Homo sapiens: one gene and its partner. The protein of the gene in region 1 interacts with the protein of each later gene in a biochemical or structural test. Each region holds a gene or a part of one and is shown on either strand. Other genes may lie near its edges.

The links.
Region 2: the proteins of MYPN (region 1) and ANKRD1 form a complex in vitro, tested with the Homo sapiens proteins (one study listed by BioGRID).

The regions. Positions count from the first base shown.
Region 1 is NC_000010.11:68,105,109-68,112,487, forward strand, and holds the start of MYPN (myopalladin), read left to right. Parts: upstream 1-4,379; 5' UTR 4,380-4,615; intron 4,616-7,379. UniProt on the Homo sapiens protein: Component of the sarcomere that tethers together nebulin (skeletal muscle) and nebulette (cardiac muscle) to alpha-actinin, at the Z lines.
Region 2 is NC_000010.11:90,917,241-90,934,356, forward strand, and holds the start of ANKRD1 (ankyrin repeat domain-containing protein 1), read right to left. Parts: upstream 3,848-17,116; 5' UTR 3,788-3,847; coding exon 3,761-3,787; intron 3,109-3,760; coding exon 2,929-3,108; intron 2,029-2,928; coding exon 1,891-2,028; intron 1,733-1,890; coding exon 1,625-1,732; intron 591-1,624; coding exon 492-590; intron 1-491. UniProt on the Homo sapiens protein: May play an important role in endothelial cell activation. May act as a nuclear transcription factor that negatively regulates the expression of cardiac genes. Induction seems to be correlated with apoptotic cell death in hepatoma cells.

The DNA of each region.
Region 1 (7,379 bases):
TTGAATTTTTCACAAATATGTTGGAAATATAATCATTTGAATATTTGCAGTGGTTATGAGCACAGACTCAGGTTCAATTTTGGCTCAGTCACTTACTTGTTGTGTGACCTTGGGCAAGTTTTAAACTTCTTTCTAAGCCTCAAGTTTTCATCTGTAAAATGAGAATTATAACAGTACCTACTTCATAGACGTTAAAGGAATCTATTAAATAAAACACACACACAAAGAGCCTAGCATAGTGCCTCGCACATAGCTAAGGAATGTTAACTTATTACTACCAAGACTATAGTATATTTATGTGTGTTAATATAATCATTATATTAATGTGGTGAGAAGTAGGATTTAACTGTATACCTTGAGGAGTACATACATGGTAACAATTGTTCCAGATTTCTTCAGTAACTTAGTCTCAGAGTGCTCTTTTAAAAAGTTCTGAATAGATTTTCTTCTTGGAAATAATACTTTTTGAAAAGTGTAAACTTTGATATGTACTACATACCAAAAGAACAAGTAAAGGAAGCTTTGTTGTGTTTTAATGCAAACCACACAGTAAAGCTTTAATTTAATCACCTTAAAATTAGGGGAACAAACAGGAAGTGTTGTAATAATTGATTGTTTTTTCGTATTTACCTTAATAAATGCCTTGACCATAGTCCCAGTTTGGTACCAGATAAAGATATTTATACATGTAATATGCATCCTGTGTATAGATATCTTATGTATTCCATATGCTTTATTCTTGAGAATTTCTTCACTCTTATTTTCATTTAGACTAAGGAGAAATCAAGAAAGCCTATTTCCTTAGTCATCTTAGTCATTATCCACCCCCACCAGCCCTGCAGGCTAAGAACATCGTGCAGACTGAGTTATTAAAGTTGATCTGAAAGAGCAATCTGTTCTAAATGACTGTCCCTGGATCTGCAACGGAACCCTGTAAATACCCTTCATTACTCTGGCGGGGCAGTATCACATTTCCTTCATGGCACTTTTGTGTCTGACACAAGTTAGGCAGTGAGATTTGGACTTTAGATGATCCTGGTTGATTGATATAGGAATGGTGCTTCTCCTGAGACAGGTAACCACAAATTTACTTCTCAGGATAATGTTTTAAAGTGGGTGTTCTGTTTAGTTTTTAAAAATGTTTTTAGTTTTTAAAACTAAGTGGGTTTTGAACTTTTAGTTTTTTTTTTTAATGTTTTTAGTTTTCCCAGGCAAGCATTTTCAGTAGTTTAGATGAAAAAGAAATTTCTTAGTGATTTCATTGTCTTTTTCAATTATATTGTTGTCATGCCTTTTATATAAGATCTTTTATAATCCACCACCCATCTATTGTTTTGGATAGTCAAGAACTTGTCTTTGCTGTGAAAATTTTTCTCATTAAAAATGGCTAAAAAATACATACTTTCTCTGTTTTTCAAAAATACGGCATAGAGGTTTTGTTTAGTTTTTTCATCTGATACTGGATATGTCAAGATGAATCTATGAACTTCAAGCAAAACTTATTGAAGCTTTGGTATATGTGAGTAATTTGTTTTAGAGAACTGGAGCCTATAGCGATATAAAAAAATAGCAAATGCAAACATTTTATATGAATCTACTAGCATGGAAATTCTCCCATGCTTACCGTCCAAGTGAAGACTTCCTCTGCCATAGAACTTCCAGATTCCTTGGCATTCCTGTGGATCATCCCAATGTGAGTAAATTGTTTCTGTGGCTGACTGACTGAATTAAGAAAACAGCTGAAGGCAAGCACAGGATCGTGTTCAAACCACAAGAAACACATGTGTTGGATGAGCCACTCAACTTTATGGGGAAGGCTTAAGACATGTAACCAACCTTGTGTTTGCTTGCCACTTAACAAAGTTTGTTTTTAACTATGTTGGGCATTAGAAAGTTTTAAAGATTATTTTTTGTATCAATAAACTCTGATGAAATCTTGAACTAGTAGGTTTGTGATATAATGTTTATACAATTACAACTGAAGATAAGCAAGGCAGGAGCTGGGTTATTTGGAAGCAGAAATTAGTTTTTAAAAACTAAAATCTAAAATATGTTTGATGTACTATAACCAGAGTGTTCACAATTACTAAATATTATTTATTTAAAACATTTATATTCAGCTTTTTTTCAAAGAGCTCAAAAATTGTGTATGGTATCTGTATTTGAAAATGTTGCAGTAAAAATGAAAAGAGAAAGATGACTGCCATTCAGAATGTCTTTGGCTTCTCTTTTCTTTTTTTTTTTTTTTTTTTGAGACAGTCTTGCTGTGTCACCCAGTCTGGAGTGCAATGGCACCATCTCGGCTCACTGCAACCTCTGCCTCCCAGGTTCAAGAGACTCTCCTGCCTCAGCCTCCCAAGGAGCTGGGACTACAGGCATGCACCTCTACGCCCTGCTAATTTTTTTTTTTTTTTGTATTTTTAGTAGAGATGGGGTTTCGCTACGTTGCCCAGGCTGGTCTCAAACTCCTGAGCTCAGGCGATCCGCCTGCCTCAACCTCCCAAAGTGCTAGGATTACAGGCGTGATCCCCCGCGCCCGGCCGGCTTCTTTTTTCTGTAACTCTTCTTTTGCATTTTAAACCTACTTTAATTCTTCATATAGATTCCTAATTTCACTGCCCAACCAGCTTTATTCTACCTTTTAGTATGAGTCTCCTTCAACCTTAGTATTCTATACCTGGGTGAAAGGTAGAATACCAGGCTTATCATGGCAGTTTGCAGGAAAGTAAAAATGTGTTTACTTATAGTGTGTTTAAACATTGCCTTTACTAGCCACCTGAAATAGAGGTTCTATTCTCCCATGGGAGAGACCTACCCAAGACCCAGCAGCACTTAACATTGATTACGGCTTAAGATCTGAGTGGGATAGTGGAGGAAGATCCTCTTTTTAAATAAAAAGAAATTGTTGGCATATCCACATAAATAGAATATGCAGAAGGACAATTAAGTGGTCTTGACATTAGTATCAGCACAAGATTAGGTAAGAGAAAAAATAAATCTGTACATTGAAGCTCTGGGTTACTGTGGTAATGAGAATAACCTGTACAGATAATTCATTTCCTCCTGTATCCTCTTCTCTCCTCAATACCAGTTATTTCAATCTGAATTATTTAAAAGTGTTCTTCATCTTTTTTTGCCTGTGTAAGCATAAAACCACATAAAAAAGGTGTAATTAAACCTCCAATGTGATCACAATAAGCAAAGAAATTTTATATCTGTTCAATGTACTATCAATAGTCTCACGATGACTGAAGAGGATAAAGATCTCTTCGTAAATTCCACGAGGTCAGAAATTTTTGTGTATTTTGTGCACTGTTTTATACTCAGTACCTGGTACACAGTAGGCATTACGAAAATAATTATCAAATGAATGAATGACTAGGAAGAAACCCTATAAGCAGTTGTATGACTTAATTAAGAAAGCTAGATTTAAACCAATGTGTTTCATGCTATCAGAATCTAAGAATGATCTTTTTAAAGAATAATAACCATCATTTAAGTCTGAATTTTCAAAGTCCTGTCTTCTACCATGATTGATAATGTTATAGCATCATTTAATCTATACTAAGCAATCAGGTTAACTTTTTTCAAGTTTATTTATTTATTTATTTTTAATTTTATTATTTTTTTTGAGACAGAGTTTCGCTCTGTCCCCCTTGTTGGAATGCAGTAGCGTGATCTCGGCTCACCGCAACCTCTACCTCCCCGGTTCAAGTGATTCTCCTGCCGCAGCCTCCTGAGTAGCTGATTTATAGGCATGCGCCACCAAACCTGGCTAATTTTTGTATATTTAGTGGAGACGGGGTTTCGCCATGTAGGCCAGCCTGGTCTTGAACTCCTGACCTCAGGTGATCTGCCCACATCAGCCTCCCAAAGTGCTGGGATTACAGGAGTGAGCCACTGCGCCCAGCCAAGGAATTTTTAACGTTAGTTACCTTGTCTGCTTTTGCTTAGCCTTTGGACGAACAATCCAAAAAAGCTCTCAGCTTTAAAACGTTAGACCTTAGCTTCAGGTTGGCTTTTCATAGCCAAATGTCCTAAAATGTATCAGTGATTTAATGAGAGTAAATTTCCTATTGATTAAAATTAAAGATCTTAAAAATTAAAATGAAGAGTTTTCATACATTTAAAAATAATGCCATTTTTTTGAATGATGAACTATGGTATAATGCATTTAGTGTTCATTCCAAACGTCAATCAATAAATAACATGGGCCTCTAGCTATAAGGGAAATTCTATAGGTAAAAGAACTGATTGACCCCCACCCCCATAGGTGCTGTCCTGCTATGGAATCCCTTTGCTCAGTTTTCTCCTGTCCAATCAGGTGGAATGTTTCACAGGCACATGGTTTATACAGCTCAAAATAACTTGGGACCTGTGAGCTGACAAATGCTCTGGCTCCGGTGGTGACAGGTTGTCCAGCTTCTTACAGCCATCTTCACTGAAACTAAGGTTAACTCCTCACTCTCTATGGACGGCTACTCTCTATTTCCAAGGGCGTGAAGAATTTCCCTCTTCTCCTGTGCTTTCATCTAAAAGTTCTCCCTGGATAATTATCATTGCAGTGGAGTGCCTGGATTGGACATCCTCATCTGGGTCAACTAAAAAAAGAAAGGTAATATCCAGATTTAAGTTCACAAGTGTGTTTTGATAACAGGGCACTGACAGTGGAAAAGCGAATATTTCAAAGAACTCATTACTGTTACTTGAAATGAAACCTAGGATAACTGTCTAATTACATATGACGGGACACGAAATTAAGTGAAAAATAAAGCTTTCCACATGTAAAGATTTTGGAGGGGATTGATGAGACTCACAGAGATCACAGACTACTTGAGTTCCTAAGGAAAAATATCTCAACAGAAGAAGTTGTGACATGTTGCATATCTCATTGGCATTTTCCACACATTCATTTATTAAAAGAATGTTGTTTATATAGAGAATATGTAAGCAATGCCAGTTTCCTTTTTAAAGGAAGTTGAATCTAAAATAATATGCCTGCATAAAGACTTTCATTTTAAATTTTTTTATCATGTAAAAGGATACGCTTGCTATATTTAGTGTTGGGAGATCTGCTCCCTGGATTAATGTACACAACAGCTGCAGAAAGTCTTGCTCAAGGGACATTGCTCTTTCTTTCTCCTTTCTCTCTCTCTCTCTCTCTCCGTCTCTTTCTCTCTCTCCCTTTTCAGCTGCATCAGAAAGACACTTGACAGTCAGTGGCAAATGTTTGGCCTGGTACATTGCACTATTAGCAGTAATAGATGCACATCTTGAGTTAAATTTTAAAAACTGTATAAGCAAAGACAGAGAAAAGATGGATTATTATGTATTTCCAGTCCTCAAAAGTGAACATTACAGTAATGGTGTTAAGGAATTTTAGTAACTTATCAACAGATTTTTATATGCTTATTAAAGATATTAACATCAGCTTGAAAGAAACAACACAGTCATCCAGTTTTCTTTCTCAAAAAAGTATGATTCAATTACTTTTACTTTAGTAATAATGAAATGAATCCTACAAACACTAAATTAAAAATTTGTCATAACTTTATAGTCTCTCCTTAATAATAACAGCTCTTGAGTTCACATAAAATTCATAATCCTTTTCTAGGAAATTGAGAATGTCTATACTTACAGCTATCATAAACATATTTTTTAAAACAGAAAATAAGATATACTGTCCGACACATGATTTGACAACAAGCAAAATATTTAAAATCAAGGCCATCCCAAGAAATCTGAAATATATGGATAATATACTTACAGAGGTGTCAAGAGATAAAATTATAGGCCTTACAGAATCTTATAATAATGGACTATGAAACAAACAGTTGAACACTATCCAAATTCTGGAAGTGTGTCTCTATCCCCACTTATAGTATATGGCTAATGCTACTGGAACTCATAATAATGTGTTAAAACCCCAGTCTTCCATATATCTACAATTTATAATATAGACACTACTACAATATGCTTACAAAGGCACTTTCAGTAGAACAGACACAGAACCACAATTTATGGACACAAGAAGTTGAATGAGTTTTTGTCCAAGCTGGTTTTGGAATTCATAGTGGTAGTTTTTGCAAATTTGCTTTTGAACATATGAGACAACAGGTAAATCAGGTTCCATTTTGAAAGGGTTTTAATGAACTAATGTTGGTATGTGAAAAAGTGAGAGTTCAATTTTTCAACAGTTAGTTCCTACACGTAATAGGAATAGTAGACTCAGTTCACTAACCTGAAAATATAAGTCAAATGCTCCTGCCAACCCTAGAACAATTAATTTTTTTTTCATTCACATTGAGATTTGACAAAGATGTTGCTGGTCTCATGGTGTTAGATAACAAGATAGAAAAATGAAAGGGTTTTCTTAACAGGTTTTCCCCTCTCCTAGGGGATGATATTTTTTAAAATATCTCTGTGGTGCTTCATGGTTGACCAAATGCTTTTAAAACTACTATAACATTACCCATTTGCTTAAAGGGAACAACTTAGGTAGAGACTAAATGGTCTGTTTAGAAATTTAAGAACAATTTCAGCAGATATATTTTTGGTGGGAACAAAGGTTGGTGGGACTATTTACCTGCAGTAGCTATAGAGTTCTCAGAGTTCATGTATAACCAGAGTCACCTTGACAAGCTCTGTGCAGGCTCCCTGCTACGGAGACCTCCACTCGGAGTCACAGTGCACTCCACTCTCAGGGAGGGGCCCAATAGAGCCTCCCAACAAAGTGCTTGAACTAGAACTTGATCTTGAGATCCCTTGGGACACCTACTGCTCTCTCAATCTAGCAAATGTATTATGTCAATTTAATTAGGGAAGTTAGCTTTTTTCAAATCCTTAATTACCTTAAAAATGACACAAATAGTAAGAAGCTGAAGAAGAATGAAAGTGTTAAATTTTTGCATTTAAAAAATAAATATTTGAGTTGATAGGGATTGACGAAGTTTTCCCATTTGGGATTTCCTTTATAACAGTTTGGTTCATTATGAATGGTGAGATCTTGAGAGTGATATAAAACCTCCTATGCCTATCACTTTTGTGACAACCACCAAACCCTTTTTCTTTTTTGATCCTAGATTCTTGAAGTCTTCTTGATTGCCTTCCATGAGACTTTCTATGGGCCATAGGATTTATTTTTTACAATATTTCTTCTCTGTCTTTCAGATTAAATAGTACCTTTGAGCTCTGGCTGCAGTGTCTTTCACTAGCGCTTCCCTACATGTTTGTCATCCTCTGGATACAAAAACATACATAATACGCTTCGTAGGAGCCAGTCTTTTTTCTCCCACTCAAACGAAATCTTTACTTTCTTTCCTACATTCTTACTTTTACCAATTCGATTAAAATAATAATAAGAAAATGGCCTACTCACC
Region 2 (17,116 bases), about 23 Mb from region 1:
GATTGAATTATTGAGGTCTGAATAGCAGCTACTTTCCATAGATGCAATTCATTTCATATGCAGTCTAGCCCCAAATCTCATTGGTAGCAATTGGCATCTATCATATAAAGTGTGCAGCTAGAGAATTCGTATATGTTGCTGGCAGCCAACCATAAGCAGGCTGCCCTGTGAACAATGGAGGGACAAGGCTGTTGAAAGGCAAGTGTCGAAAATGAATGACTAACTCGCTGATGAGGATATTGAATTCAGTTTAACAGCTTTCACTTCCTTCTTTTCCCTGAAATATTCCTCTATTTTCAGTATGTATGGAAAATATTTTCACATGACCTACTCTCATCTCCCAACTTTCCTTTATTTGGAGAAATGAGCTTTTGCCTAGTTCTCTCAGATCAATTTTCAATCCAATCAGCTCGGTTTTGCATTGGAGGTTTTCCGGAGCTTCATATAGTCTACTTCTTTTGGCTCATTCCCAAGCAAAGAAATATATTTACCATATCACGGAATTCGATCTGGGCTCCAGCTTCCATTAACTTCTCCACAATTGCCAAATGTCCTTCCAAGCATGCTCTATGAAGAGCTGTCCGTTTATACTATCAGAACAGAGATTTTAAACAGAGATAGCAATAAATATAAAAATGTGTGTAAACCCTTTTAAGAGCTATGAAGCTGGAGATTCTGATGACCTAACTGATAGAAACTCAAGTGCTTCTTTATGAATAGAAATGTCAAAGTTAACTAAAATTGCAGAATCAGAACAATTATCCTGCAACTAATATTTGAGCTTCCTCCAATATACATTTCCAAGGGCTCAAAGGCCTACGTTGAGGAGTGTGAACTTAAAGGCTCAAAACTATCTAAATGCTGACATCTCCGTTTCTTCTATCTTGCACCTTCCTTGTTCATGTAGCATTACCATGCAGATCAGACAGCTTTCTTGCATCTGGGACTGTTGCTAGACTATCAAAAAGTTTCCATTCATTTTTAGGAGAATGGGAGACATGTTTTTAGTTCAACTTCAGAAGCGGTCCCCAATTTCACTTCATGGGGGAAAGAATACAAAAAGATTAGTGATTTCTGATAAATTGGCTTTATTTGAATGGGCTAATGAACTATTAGAGCTGGAACAACTTTAGGCGTTATTTCACTCCAATGCCCCATGTTTACAGATAAGGAAACCACAGCCCAGAGGATGCAAATTAGCTGCTCAAAACCAAATAGCCAAGTAGTGGTACAACTGGCCCCTGAACTCCAATCTCCAGATTTCTTATCTAGTGTTGACGTGCTTGGTTTTAATCAAAGATGATGCTAATAATATATCTCTAAAGGTGACTTTTTGGCCCACATTAAAAGTCTTATCCCAAGAATCTAAGAAGTTAAAGAAAAACTGAAAAATCAGCCAGATGTATATGAGTGCAAAAAACAATGCAATCCGTATCACTGATCTAATATCTATTTATTTTTTGGACCACTGAACTCTCCTATTAGGCTCCTGGCATACACAGCAACAGCTGGGGAAACTGTTTCAGGTGGAAGGACTTTGGCACTATATTAGCAAGACTGGAGTAAAGCATAAGAAACATAAAATTAATGAGCTGGATTTTGCAGTGCTTTGCATGAGTCTTACCTCATCACAAACATCTGGATTGTTCTTGTCTGACAAGAATTTTTCTACTACTGGCAGTTTATTCTCCAGAGCAGCCTTCAGAAACGTAGGCACATCCACAGGTTCCGTCTAAAGCCAAAATAAATAAATATATATATATATATATATATATAGCATGAGAGTTACCGTGAGCTTGCCAGCATTCAATCAAACCCTCCACAGATATTTGCTCCCCTGTAGCACAACACTGGACATGTATTACTGGAAACCAAAAAAAAAGCCCTTACAATGATTTCAGGTTCTGGTTCCTTTACAACTGGAACTTTAGTTTTCCTGTATTTTTTCCTTTTCTTCAGTTGAATGATTATTTCAAGGTCTTCTAAATTTTCAAGCTTTGATCTTTGTTCTAGTTTTTTCTTTTTGAGCTAAAAAAGAAATTCGTATTTCAAAAATATGGTGAGTTCTACTGACAAGCATTCTGGTTGTGTCTAAACTAAATCTGCAAGGTCTGAGATAAACATGTGAACAGTTTGAGCAAAAACATTTTTTAAAAATTATATAAATCTTTGACTTCATTTTAGGGATTTCTTATTCAGATATTTATCTGGGAGTCTAATTTTCAGCTAATTGCCATCATCTTTACTTCTGTTGCTTGTAGAATCAGCCCTTGACCAATTGAGGACACGATCTGGTCTCTAAGTGATGACTTTGTAATTAATGCCATAAGCAAGTCTTAGATTTTTAAAGGATTTTTAAAATTATGCTCAAAACTTGGTTTAATTTTTGAGCATGATAAAAAGAATCTAACAATAAATGTTAAGCTCTGAAATATCAATGTCATTCTCTTTCACTAAGCAGAGCCTTCTAAAACAGACTGTCCAGGGACCACAGCTAACTAAAGCAAATTTTATCTGTGTTAGTAATTAAGGAAAATTCACCCAGAAACACAGATTGTGTCAACACAGATAGCAGACAGTTAAACAATGATCTATGGACCACAGACCATGTTATTGAGAAAAAGAGATCTCCGTTGCTTGGGATTAACTACATGGTGTGTAACATCAGGAATTCACTGGACATGTGTATCTTTCAATCAAAACATGGTCACAGCACATTTATTCATTGATTCAGAATTCAGAGGTCATAGTCTTGTCAAAGAGTTATTTCCCAAAACCTGTTCCATACAAGTTGCCTCTTTACGGGTTAGAATCTGGTAAAGAGACATCTTAATGATTGGGTTTGTTTCTCTCTTCTCCTTCCCTGACATTTCCATTCCCTACCCCAGCCCCAACATCCTACTAGTGGATTCCACAGATGGCTCTCACCTCTGCCTCTCGTTGTTTCTCGCTTTTCCACTGTTGCTCCCCCAGGGTCACAGGGTGGGCTAGAAGTGTCTTCAGATCCTCCTGCTTCTCTAAAGTAACAGCAGCTTCATACTCTCCATCTCTGAAATCCTCAGGAAGGAATTCCCCTGCCTCCCCATTGCCATTCTTCTTTCCAGTGACCTATGAGGGAAGAAGATGGCAGCGTCAGAAGCAGCAGCCTCGTCCTGGGTCATTCTTCACAGACAATGCCGCAGGAGGCTCTTGGTCCTTCTCCCCTGGGAACAGCCACCTTTGAGCAGTGCACTCTCAGATCTCAAGCTGCGATGCACACTGCTACAATTGTCCCAGAATTACCTTCAGATGCTTGTCCTACTCTCTTGGTTAAATCAAAGCTTGGGTTAGGTTGACAGATTAAATCTACTTTTAATCTGCTTAATCACATTTCTTTTAGGAAAATCAAAAACCTTCTCTGCTTAATTAAAACTCAACTTTAGGTACTTTTGATGAGTTTCGCCTTATTGTAAAGTTTCCGGGCTTACATTCTTTCAATAACACTTCTTCCCTAAGACATTTTGATAACTACACGTGATTCCACACTGTAGTAATAAAACCAAAGGAGAAGATATTAAATAGGAAATATGCAGAGAATTCATTACTGGTAGCTCCATTTTTTTTTTCCAATTTCACTTGTTTCATCACATCAACCTTTTTCCATATATGACATTTTCAGAGTTCCCTTGCATTACACCTGAAAGCAAAGGGCATTTCAATTTTCAAATAAAAACCAAGATGAACCAGTTTTCATTTTATAAAATTAATGCATCTTACATACCAGTTCCTCTACTTTCAGTACCATCATGTTGGCTGAAGGAGTCTTGTATGTTTTTCTGTCGTGGAAGGAATCCCTGGAGTTGGCCCTGCTGGGCCCCTCCACACCGGTCAGCTTATATAGCTGGGGCCGGGTGAGATAATCTTCCAACCTGGGAACCGAAGTAACACTCCCACCCCCATTAGGAGCCAACTCAGAGGCAGGTGAATTTTCATTCCAGACTCAGTGTCTGGGAAGCTGAAGAGGGAGGGGAGGACAAGCTAACCCTGCTGAATATGTGAATCAGGAAGAAATGTGAGAGGGCCATTCCTTTGGTGGTGATCACATCGCTCAGCAATGCAAGTCATCCTATTTGTCAAGAGTCAGGGGACAGCTGTCTGTTGACATTGCACCACATCACTGCCCTTTTTTTCTTTGTCAGCTTTCATATGACTACCTATCAAGAAAATGTAGATGCCCTACATATCACACCCCCAGTAATATCTTTCTGATAAGCAGACTTATCAACACTTCACTTAGGGGAAACTTGTCCCAGGACATCCTATTCCCTGGGTAAACAGCCTGAGGGGAAGGGATCTGGGCCCTAAAGGCACTTGTCTATATCTGTTTGGAATTCTTTGGAGTGATGTCTGGGGCTAAATAGGCCCCATGACATGCCACCTTACCATCATTATAAGAAATTGAAAGCATTCAGTAATGCACTTTTCTTTTATGATGTCACTGGCCATAATTAGCACATGACATGCTTACCGTGTTCTAAAACAGCATAATAATTGGAGCATTTTTACTTCAAAATGGATCAGAGTGGTCAAGAAATAGAGTAAATGAAACCAGCTATCAGCCGGGTGCAGTGGCTTACACCTGTAATCCCAACATTTTGGGAGGCAGAGACAGGAAGATTGCTTAGCTTAGGAGTTCAATACTAGCCTGGGCAACATGGCAAAATCCCATCTCTACCAAAAATACTATATATATATATGAAAAAAATGAGACCAGTTATTAGCAATGGCAGGACTCTGATTAGGTCATTGAGCTGAAGTTCTCAAATGCTGTGGGGAAAGGAATCACCTGTGGGAGCTTGTCAGAAATACAGATCCCTGGGCCCCACTCCAGGGAATTCTGAGTTGATTTATGGTAACTCGTAGGAATCATCTTGAATTTCAAAGCACCCAGATGATTCTGATGCATCAAGATTTGAGACACGTGGCTGGAGGGATAATGCACTTTGCTTCCGGAAGGGTTGAAAAAGGTCTCTATTTCTGGTTTCTAATCTTTGAGGTGTAAATTATGTAAAAATACTGGGGTCTTTTTATAGTTTCAGGAAAAACTGGGTTTTTTTCAGTAAAAGAAAGGAGAGAAGAATGGGAGAAGGGAATTGTGAATGGAGGGAAGTGTTAATTAGGAAGTTATGTTTGACCTTTGTGTGTCTATTTCTCCCCAAACTCACCCAATCAACAAATGTGGCTGCCATTCTCCTCTTCCCCCTTGAATGCTCAGTCAGTGGATGGTGTTTCTGAAACTTTGAGAAGACATCGACTCCCCACCCCAAGACAAAACATTGACAAAGAGGGACCCTCCCAGTACCTCCTGTATCATATGTTCCGGTCTCCTAATATTCTATCTTAAAAGGGGGTTAATTAAAGGAAATCTCCTGGGCTTTTCTTTGAGATGGACACAGCTATCACTATTTTCTTTTTAATTTTTTCCTTTTCTCTTTATTATTTATTTATTTTTAATATATGGAATGTTTCACAAATTTGTGTGTCATTCTTGCACAGAGTCCATGCTAATCTTCTTTGTATAGCTCCTATTTTAGTATATGTCCTGCTGAAGCAAACAGAGTCATTACTATTTTCATTGGTCTCTTCATCTAAGTCAGAAGTAGTCATGGACACTTTTTCTACCATTTCGTATGCCTTTTTGTTCCAGGCCTGACCCAAACTGAGGGAGGTATTAGGAGGAGAAGTGTTTGGGGGAAGGACTGTGGGATGTTTAAGGGTCTTGGATATGAAATCCCAGAGCTGTCCATGCCCTCGAAGTTGGAGCAAGACTAATGCTCTCATTTTACAGAGAGGATGCTGAGGCAAAGAAACATTAAGTAACTTGCTGCAGATGCACAGCTAGTTGGTGAATGCTAGGTTGAAGAGTCCTGATTCCATCCAACAGAAGCAGACAATCATTGAGCCCAAAAGATTTCCTAGGGCAAGTCTCACCTAGACCCACTCAGGATGCAACCAAAACTGATTAAATGGCTCCTTACTGTTTCAATCACCTCAAAGAATGCAAGTGAAAGTGGGCAGGGAGGCTTACCAAGCCCTTTTCTTTCTCCAGGCATTTAATTATCCCTTGAAACCTAGCTGATTCTATAGAGAGGCTCCAGGAAGTCTTGAAGAAAACTTTGCAGAGGATGACACTTGAAGATGAGTTGATGGAATGGGCTGAACTTAAAGGAGCACGCTGGTGGATGCAAGGATGTCAGGGCTGGTGAAATCACTGCCAGTTCAACCTTTTCCCATGTTGATCCAGCTTGTCATTATAAAACATGAGAGGTACAACTTGAGGATAAGTGGTCAGAAGATGTAAAAAGAATATGACAACAAATAAAGAAAAAAAACATGAGAGAATCTGCTTTTTGAAAAGAGATTCTAGGCACCTTTAGCTCTCTAAAAAGATAAAAACAACAACCATTGTATTTTCAAATCGTTCTTATTCATCAAAATTGAGAAAAAAATTCCCCTGGCGGAGAGTTTTCTGTCATTTGTTTTTCAGAAGCATCCTTCCCATAAAAGTTCACCCAGTGGTGTAAATTCTTATATTTGTGTATTTGGCTTTATCATAGCCTCAATCTGGACATAATCTATCCTTACTAAGATGAATTAAAACAATAAAGGTCCTAGTTGGTTCTACAATCATAAAGCAACTTGGCATCACCCATCTCCAACCAGAAAGAGTAAAGGAAGCATCCCTGAGCTTCTCCAGTGTCACCCCATGAGCCTTTTCCCACTCCCCTCAGGATTTATGCATTTCCATGGGTGAAATGACATGTGACTAGAATTAGGACCATGGTTATAGCTGGAGAAAGTGAGAAGCAGAGAAGTAGCACCTAAAGCAATTACTGCTGTCACCTAGGGATTAAAAGAGGCGCTTGGACCCCACCCAGATCCATGTGCCATAGCTCAGCTCCAAGTCCAAGGGCAGTTTTATCTTTCTGTATAAAATATGAAGTTCCAGACGTTCTACTTCTACTCCAACTTTTCATTCTTATATTTTAACTATATAATAGACACATTATTGTTAAAAATAGCACAGAGAATGTTATTTAGTTCAGATCTTACTGTCGATTTGATACTTGATTATTTTTCGCTCAGTAACCGTGTCTTACAGATTGTCTCCTATCTGCACAAACAAATCTATCTTGCTATTAGAAACAACTGCATGAATTTCCATGCACGGACCTACCATTTCTTATTTAACCACTTTCTCATTTGTGGACATGTAGGCTGTTTTTTTAAAATGGGCATTTTTATTTTCTAAAAAGGCATTTTATAGCACATAAAATTTTATTGTTATTAACACTCCTTGTCCTTAGAACACCCAACTTGATACTAAAAGGAAGTGCTCCAAGGACTGTAGCCAGATTCTGACTTGGAAACCTCCTTGTTCCACTGTTGTACTTACAATTGCTCATTTTGCCATCCCTTTTAATAGCCTTCCCAGTCCCAGCTGTTACGCACCTTCCTTGGCCCAGAGAAGTGGCTGACTTAGCCTGACCAGCAAGCCATGGCTCAGTTACGTGTTTGAAAATGCCAAAGGAAGGTCATAAAAGTGAAGCAAATAAGGTTTAATGTTGTTTCCCCTCCCCTGCCAGGAATGGGATAACCTGTATTTGAAAAGCAGAAAAGTACTGGAAACATTTTCAGCAGGATTGTGGCACCTGCCTTCCTTGCCTCTCGAAAGGCAGAATCAAGACTAAAGTCCTTCTGCCCAGGACTCTGGATAGAAAGGGCACAAACTGCCCTAACACAGTTGGGCTGCCCACAGTAGGTTACTTTTTACGGATATCGGTGGCCTCCTGACGTTAGAGGTAGGTGAAGGCTGTAGGTCTCACCTCCACACCTTACAGCAGGTGCCTTGTTACAGTAAATAAGGTATCTCAGTGCAAATTCTGCCACACATATGAACTCACACCAGCCAACAGGCACAAAGGGCCACATGCACTATTCAGTAAACTCATGAAGCCCAGCCCTTTGTCCATTTAGGCCCTTGGACAGTGTCCAGCACAAAAGATTCGCTTGACTAGGCATGGTGGCTCATGCCTGTAACCTCAGCACTTTGCGAGGCCAAGGCAGGAGGATCACTTGACCCTAGGAGTTCGAGACCAGCCTAGACAACATAGCGAGATCCTGGCTCTATGTTTTTTTATTTAAAAAAAAATAAAAGAAAAAGTTTCACTTGAAGCAAATGAAACCACAACCACATTCTGGCAGCATATTTCAGCTAATTTTCTAGTCCACTCAAGGTGATTACAGACTCCTCCACATATGGCCTAACACAAGATAGGATGGAGTCCTAGCACTCACTATAAGCCTAGGACTCCAACTGCATAGAAAAGTGCCTGACACATAGTGGGGCTAAATAAATATTTACCTGAGACCCAGCAGGGCTCATATTCTTTTCTAACCAAACCACATATTTCAAATTCTCCTTTCAATGAGAAATAATTGGTAACATTTCTCATGCTAATTAACCATTAATCTGTCAATACTATCAAAGGTAAAGATAGGTAAAGTACTTGGGATTACCTCCACTGGAGTGGGGGCAGCTCATTAGTGTCTTTCAAATGCTAACTAACCCCAACAGTTGTAATCGCAGAGTCAGGGCTTCTCAGGTGTGAACTAACATTTCTTCAAGCAGTGATTCTCTAAGCTGGGTGCATCTTAGAATCCTCTGTGAAGCTTCTAAAAAAATGCTGATGCCCAGGCTTCAGCTCAGGCACATGAAATCCAAATCTCTGCTCAAAGATCCAAGGAATTGGTATTTTTTAAAGTTTTCCAGTTGATTCTAATTTCCTCCCAGCATTGAGAATACTGCTCGAGGGTGTAGAATTAAATGAATATGTATCTAAATACACGTGTATTTTCTCCAAGTTGTAGTGGACAGTCAAGCTATTGTTATTCTGGTCTCAGAATTTTGATTGTTGAAGACTCTTGCCTATGCTAAGACCATGGGAAACACACACATACAATTTACTCATTTATTTTTTATTTTATTTTATTTTATTTTATTTTATTTTATTTTATTTTATTGTTTTGAGACAGAGGCTTGCTCTGTTGTCCAGGCTGGAGTACGGTGGCACGATCTTGGCTCACTGCAACCTCTGTCTCACGGGTTCAAGCAATTCTCTTGCCTCAGCCTCCTGAGCAGCTGGGACTACAGGTGCATGCCACCATGCCCAGCTAATTTTTGTATTTTTGGTAGAGATGTGGTTTTGCCATGTTGGCCAGGCTGGTCTTGAACTCCTGGCCTCAAGTGATCCTCCCGCCTTGACCTCCCAAAGTGCTGGGATCACAGGCATGAGCCACTGTGCCTGGCCTACTCATTTAATATTTATTTAGCTCTACTTTGTGTCAGGCATTTTTCTAGAGCTGAGATATACTTATGCTCTCAAGAGACACACGACTCTGCCCTCACGGCATTCACACAGTTTTACTGAAGTATTTAACAAAAACTACAGACAATATAACATGCTTCTTCTGCCACAAATCAAGAAGAGTGAGGCGAGACAGTAGTTTTGTGGGTCTGGTGGGGATGGGATGAAGAATCAGGAGGCTTACCTCTAAATCCTGGCTTTGCCCTGTGTTCACTGGAGCAAGTCCTCTCACCTCTTACCATCTCAAATCCTGAAGTTATAAAAGGAGAGCTGAGAACAAAATGATTTCTAGGGCCCTAAAGTTTTACTGAGGTCTCAAAGTCACTGAATCAAAAGGTAGAAATAAACATTCATAACTGCAGCATCACGTGCGGACAGTGAAGTTGATTCTCCAATGCCTCTAAAAGAGGAAACGGTCCATAAAGCTTTCACTAGCCCAGGATATTTCCACTATCTTTAAGACATTCTCCCACTTGATAAACATAAAAATTTCACACTCTCTGTTACATGGATAGAAATTTCAAGAAGATCAACTTGGGGTCAAGATGAAATAAAAGTAGTGGTAATTTTGATTATGCCTCTTCAAACCTTCTAAGACCGCAGAGATTTTTATAAGGCCTCATCCTCTTTCTTCCCCTTCTGAGAATCCCTGCCCAAGCTCTTGCCTAGGCTGACATCTGTCCCCATAGAAAAGGTAGTGATAAGTGTCCAGGAAGGGATCTCAGTGACTTTCTATTACATTCTTATTTCCCCAAATAATGGGTTCTTGTTTAGGCCCCCTACACTGGTTCCCAGAACATTAGGAAGGCAGAGCCTCTAACAATCAACATTCTGGGATTGTGATAAGGACAACTGGCCTGTCTATTACAACCTCAAGAAGAATGGGTGTGAGTGGGAGAATCAGTTAAAATGTGAATGCATAATGGTTCCCCTCCCACCCCTCAACTTTCTCAAAAGCCAAATTTACTTCATGAGATTAAATTTCACTCAATGGACGGTGGGATGATGGAGAGTTTGCGTTGAGATGATTTTTTAAAAGGAAGTTTGATTGTCATAGTAACGCTCTGAAAAGATTTTGATGCAACTTTGGAATTACTTCACACCCAATTACATAGAACATCTACTTGGAATGAGAGATAAGTGCTTCTGTGACTGCAAACATAGATAGAAAATCCATTAACCTTTTTAGCCATTTATTAAAGCAGAGGAAAATTATTTTTAAAATGCAATTTCTGACTTCAAGAAGAAGTACCGAAAAAAATATTTTCTTGGTGTAGTTTGGAGTTTCCTAATAAAGGGCAAATGCCACAGAATATCTTCACTATGGATTCCTTGGGAATCAGAGAAATTTAGGGCCAGTAACACACTGAGTGGTCATTGAGTCCACTCCCTGACCAGGAAGGGCCAGAGTTAGGCAGGTAGAACCCTATTACTTTAAAAACTAAAACCTCCCTTTGTCGTTATCCTCATATTTAAAAATCTTACTGCAATACAGTTTCTTGTGGCTTACTTACAGCTGGGCAGCTTAGTCTGTTTGTCTCATTCTAGCTTCAGGAATGATCATCACCAAAAACACGTATTGAGCATTTTTTCCGATGACTTTTGCTAGTCAAAGGGAAAAAAGCTAAAAGGTGAAATTACTGCCATTGAACTGCCATTACTTGAACTGCCATTACTTGAACTACCTTCATCCACTGGATCAAAACCATTTTCATAACTGGGTATTGTTAAGCTCTTCAGAACATAGGCTTTTGGACCATTAGAAGGGCTTTCACATCGTCTAGTCCAGTTCTGTAACTGTACACACTGGAGCAAATGACACCTGAAGAGGTTCTATACATATGTATTATCTTACTCATTCAATACGTTTGTTTAGTCTGTTCCTGTGGGACAACTTGACATTATCCATTTCCTGAAGTGCTGCAACAAGAAATACCGTACACACCATCACTTATGTTCTTACCAAAAATTTTACCCTGAATCCAATTTCAGACAAATTCAGAATGTAGGACATTCAACAGGGCAACTATCTTGGGCTCTTCAAAAAGGTAAATGACTAGAAAAACAAAACAAAAAAGAAGTGAGGAATTGTTCTCTCTTTGATTAAAAGAGAAGAAAGAGCATGAACCTTGGTGGGATCCTGTAATTCAAGACACAAAAGCTGTAAAATACATTTTGAGGACAACTGGAGAAGTATGGAAGGTATTTTAGACAATATTATTAACTGAGTGATGATTTTCTTATGCATGATGATGGTTTTGTGGTAATGGAGGAGAATGTCCTTATTGTTAGGAGATGTATTCTGAAGTATGTAGGAATGACCTATGATGCTTTCAAATGGTTCAGCAAAAGAGGTATGCATGTGTGTAGAAAGAGAGAAAGATGAGAGAGAGTACAACTGTAAAATATTAACAATTAGCGAATCTAGGTGACAGTGCTCATTCTACTATTCATTCAACTTTCTGTATATCTCAAAATTTAAACATGAATAAAACATTTTAGTAAAACAGACACCCTAGCACGTAAGTTTCACGAAGCAAGAGATGTTTGTTTCTCCCACTGATGTAGACCAAGTGCTGAGAGCAGTCCCCAGCACATAGTAGGCACTCAGTAAAAACGTGTTTAAACGGAAAGCAAAAAAGGAGGTGGCCCCAGCATGGGGTCAGAGGGAGGGAAGGGACAGAAGCCAAGAAGTGGGCAAGTCTGCTGGCACACCACCCTGACATCAGTGTTTTTCAGAGGCTTCCCTAGAGCCACAGGAATGCTACAGAATAAGGCTCCTGTGGACAGTGCCCTCTCAGCTGCACCTGCTTTTGGTGCAGGCAGCTGGGCAGAAGATTAGGTAGAGAAGACTCACCCAGCCAGAATGTCTTACCCATGTCCCCACCCACCACGATCGATCTGGAAATGGCATGGAGATGTTTCTGATGAGAGTATAAAAATGTAGGCATCCGTCAGCTCGCACTGGTTCAGCCATCCTATGTATACAAGGGAAAGCTTGAATATATGTGAAACCTCAGGGATTATGAGATCCATTAGAACCCACTTAATATTATGATGCAAATGGTGAGATTGAAGGTCTTACAATTAGGCAAGAGCTGACTGCTTTCTTCATTTGATTTTCTTTAATGGCACCAAAATAATATACTGTTTTTGAAAAGACGAGTTTTCTAAGATTCTACTAGTTGATGATTTATTATCTCATTTCCAAATTCCAGGGTTAAGGAAACATGTATATTAAGAAATGGCTAAAATATGAATGAAGCACAAATGCTCTGGGAGGCTGATGGAGGAGGAGGAGGGTACCAGGGTGGGTGTGCGAGGTCATGGTCCAGCTGAAGGCCAATGAACCGAAGGTTTCTTTATTTTCTCCTCTTTTTCTTTTTATCTTTCTTTTCTCACTTTCTTTCAATGTCTCTTTTCTTCTTTCCTCCCTCTTTGCTTCCTCTCACCCTTCTTTCTTCTCTTCCTTCCTTCCCTCCTACCTTCCTCCCTTCCATCCCCCGATTTTAAAAACCACAGTGATTGAAACTAAAGAGCTGGCCTACGCACCTCAGGGCTGAGGACTTGTTAGCTCTCCTTGCCTCCTGGCAACCATGCCCCTTCTAATAGTGACTGGTTGAGAAAGAGGCTCAGAGTCTTTTAGCTAGAATAATCCCCTCAGGCATGTCATCTCTTTCCAGTGCAGACCTGCAAGGGAGGTGATCTTATTCCCACTGAGAAGGAGCCTGGCAGTGCTTCTAAACTGAATTCTCATAAGAAAGGGAAGAGCCTGTTTGCAAAAACATACTCTTTTGCTGCCAACACAAGCAGATCTTTTAGGGAGGAGGGGAACTGTAACCCCTCCAAGATCTTTGCTCTCCTTCAGAGCCAAGGCTCTCAGGTTTCACAAAGGAATTTATAGAGCAGACTGACGCCTCTGGGGTTGGAATCAGCTCAGGACTAAGTGGAGAATGAGGAGAGGGACAGGCACCCTTCTCTGCTCTGTGCAGGCTGGGGATTGTTTACCAGGGGATGAAAAGGTCCTCTCCCTGAAAAGGAATGTTTGGCAAGGAAATGACTTCTGGAGGCACAACTGAATGGCTCCCCAGGGAATCAGTTTGGGTTAGTTACAGATCAGACCCACCACCCTGGACAAATCTCACTGGGCAGGGGCGGCGGGGCTGTGATTACAAGAGCTTGGGGATGTTTAAAGCAACTCCTGCCTTCAAAAGACAGCTGTCCTCTTTTCCAGATAAGTTCTGTATGGTAAAAGAAGGAAAAGGAAAAAAAATAGAGGTTAGAAATCATATTGAAAAATTAAAGGAATGTTTGATTTGTCCATAAGAATTTCCTGACTGTGCCACTTTGCTCAGCGCTTGTCCTAGGTCCTTCCAATATCACATTTAGTGGGTAGTGAGAAGGCGTGGAGTAAGTGACTCTGGTTGCTGACATTCACACTTGGATGAAGTGGAGAAAGATGATGTCCTTCCTTATTTGGTGGCTCTGGAAGCCACATTCCCTCCTCATCCGCCTTCCCAAAAGAACCTTGTGGCTGCCCAGCGGAAGCCAGTGCTTTCAGCAGCCCCCACCCTTGGCATTTCCTTATCTAGGAGTCTTCACTGTGGAATTCCAAGGCCCACCCCAATGCTCCGGATGTGTTTCAATCCATGGCCTGCCACTTTGTTACTCTTGTGATGACAAGCAGATAACATAGCTCACATGCCTTCTTTTCCTGCATACCAACCAGACCCCAGTTCTGAAAAGGAAACAAACCACAAACCAAGAGAGATGTGTTATTTTTATGCAGACATTGTTAAGACACTGCAATAAGCCTAGAATTGTGGAGAGTGCTTTCCCATGTTGCTCCAGTTAATCCCCTCAGTCACTCTGGCATTTATACAAATGAGGAAACCAGTGAGTGTGGAGGTTAAATAGTCAAGGTCTCATAGCAAGTGTGTGTGTGTGCATGTATGTGTGTGTATCTTGGGGGGTGAGGGTTGCCAATTCAAAGTCCAGAATGACTCCAAGTCCACAGCACCTTTGTTGCAGTTAAATGCCTTTACAACTAAGCGTGACCCCTTTGGCAATCACTACTAAGAGGCTTTACCAACTTCTGACACTGTTAACTTCAAGACAAATATGCTTTTTTCAAGACATGGCATCAAAAACTGTATTTCTGTTATTCCTCATCACCATGGTTACAACCACAACTCATCTGTAATTTTCAAAGACCCTGCATCAGAGAAACAACAAAAATGTGGAGAAAATATTTGCTGAACATGTCAGTAAATAAATAAGTATAAAATATGAAAGTGGCCAGAATATACCCAAATCAATAAATATGAATGAGTTAAATGCCTCTTTTGAAAGACAGATAATGGCCGGGTGCGGCGGCTCACGCCTGTAATGCCAGCACTTTGGGAGGCTGAGGCAGGTGAATCACAAGATCAAGAGATCGAGACCATCCTGGCTAACACGGTGAAACCCCAACTCTACTAAAAATACAAAAAAATAGCCGGGCGTGGTGGCAGGTGCCTGTAGCCCCAGCTACTCGAGAGGCTGAGGCAGAAGAATGGCGTGAATCCGGGAGGTGGAGCTTGCAGTGAGTCGAGATCGCACCACTGCATTCCCTCCTGGGCAACAGTGCGAGACTCCATCTTTAAAAAGAAAGAAAAAGAGAAAGAGAGAAAGAAAGAAAGAGACAGATATTCTTAAAATCCAACAATTCCGCTTCTGGGTGTATACCCAAAAGAATTGAAAGCAGAGTCTTGAACAGATATTTGCACACCCATATTCATAGCACCATTATTCACAATAGCCAAAGTATGGAAGAAACCCAAGTGTTCATTGACAGATGAATGAACAAGCAAAATGTGGTATTTACACACAATAGAATATTATTCAGCCTTAAAAAGGAAGGAAATGCTGACATATGCTACTACATGGATGAACCTTGAGGGCATTATGCTAAGTGAAATAAACCAAAAAGACAAATACTGTATGATTCCACTTACATGAGGTACTTAGAGCATTCGAAATCATAGAGACAGAAAGTAGAGTGATGATTGCCAGGAGCCGGAGGGAGGGGGAAATAGAAAGTTATAAGAGTTTAGAATTTCAGTTTTACAAAGTGAAAAGAGTTATGGACATGGATAATGGTGGTGGATGCACACTATGAATGCATTTAATACAATTGAAATATACTCTTAAAATGGTTAAGATAGTAAATTTTTTGGGGGGAGGAACTGGAACCCTAAAAATGAAAGAAAAATGAATTTTCTTAGAAAGATACTCTTATATGATGTAAAACAATACAAACAATAAAAGTCTATGCCATTTATAAGAGATATACCAGGATGACACTGGACGGTTGAAAATAAAGGGATAGACAAAGGGACACCATGTAAATGCTACCAAAATATGCAGAAGGGACAGTATCAGTGCCAGACAAAATCAAATTCAAAGCAAAAAGCACTAAATGGGACAAAGAAGACTGAAAGACATAATCCAACAAGAAGTTATACTAATAATTAATTTTTGTGCAATAAACAACATAGCATCGAAATATATAAACACCAAGTCTGTGTACTTAGGCATCCTAAGAATGGGTAAATATAGTAAAAAGTACTGTTTTGGCCTGATAGGAACTTGCTGTCTCTTCCAGTGGATAATTTGTCTGTAGTGTATTTAAAGCAGGGAGCTTAAGCTCAGACTTCCAGATTGGAAAGTTTCTAAGTATTTCAGGGAGAGGTTATTTATGCTGTATGAGTATTTTACGTCAGGGAAGCATTATAACAAATAGACCATAAAAATCATACCACATCCAAAGGAAAAACAAAAAGCCACAGAAGGTTCTTGGAGTGTCTCTTCAGGAAATCCTCCACACTCAAGGCTCTTGCCAGTTAGGGTAACGTGTCCATAAATTTCCTCTAACAAACCCATTCCAGCATCAGAAAATGACAAATCAATCAAATTTTGGGGGATTGATAGCTAAACTCTTCCAGGACTGTGGGCATAAATCCAGGAAAGGAATTTATGCCAAAAATTGAACCCTTTCCTGACAGAAATGGAAACGCAGACAGAAATAAAACCAGTTACTTCATTTCAACTCATATCTACCACGTTTTAGGCAAGACAGTGAGGATACAGCTTACAGCTTCTCACAGGTAAGATAAAATTTCTAGCAAAAGTAAGGTGCTGGCCAGGCACAGTGGCTTACACCTGTAGTCTTGGAGCTTTGGGTAGTTGAGCTGGAGGATCCTTTGAGGCCAGAAGTTCAAGACCAACTTGGGCAACATGGTGAAACCTCATCTCTACAAAAAGTAAGATAAAATAAAATATTAGCTGAGTATGGTGGTGCATGCCTGTAGTCCCTGCTACTCGAGATGCTGAGGTGGGAGGGGGATCACTCAAGCCCAGGAGTTCATGGTGACAATGAGCTAGGATTGAGGTACTGCACTCCAGCCTGGGTGACAGAGTGGGACTGTTTCAAAAGCAAACAAAAGTAAAGTACTAAAACACTCTAAAGCGCTCAGTTGTTAAACAAATCTCATCTCCAGTAGGGATTGAGTTACTGAAGCAAAGGGGCCAGGGAAGCCAATGACAGGGAAGGAATGGACCGGGAACCTGGGTTTTGAAATATCTTTCTCATAATTTGAGTTATATTAAAGAAAAACCTAAAACTACTAAGTGCTAATCTAGCATTTTTTAATTCTGAAAAGTCTAAA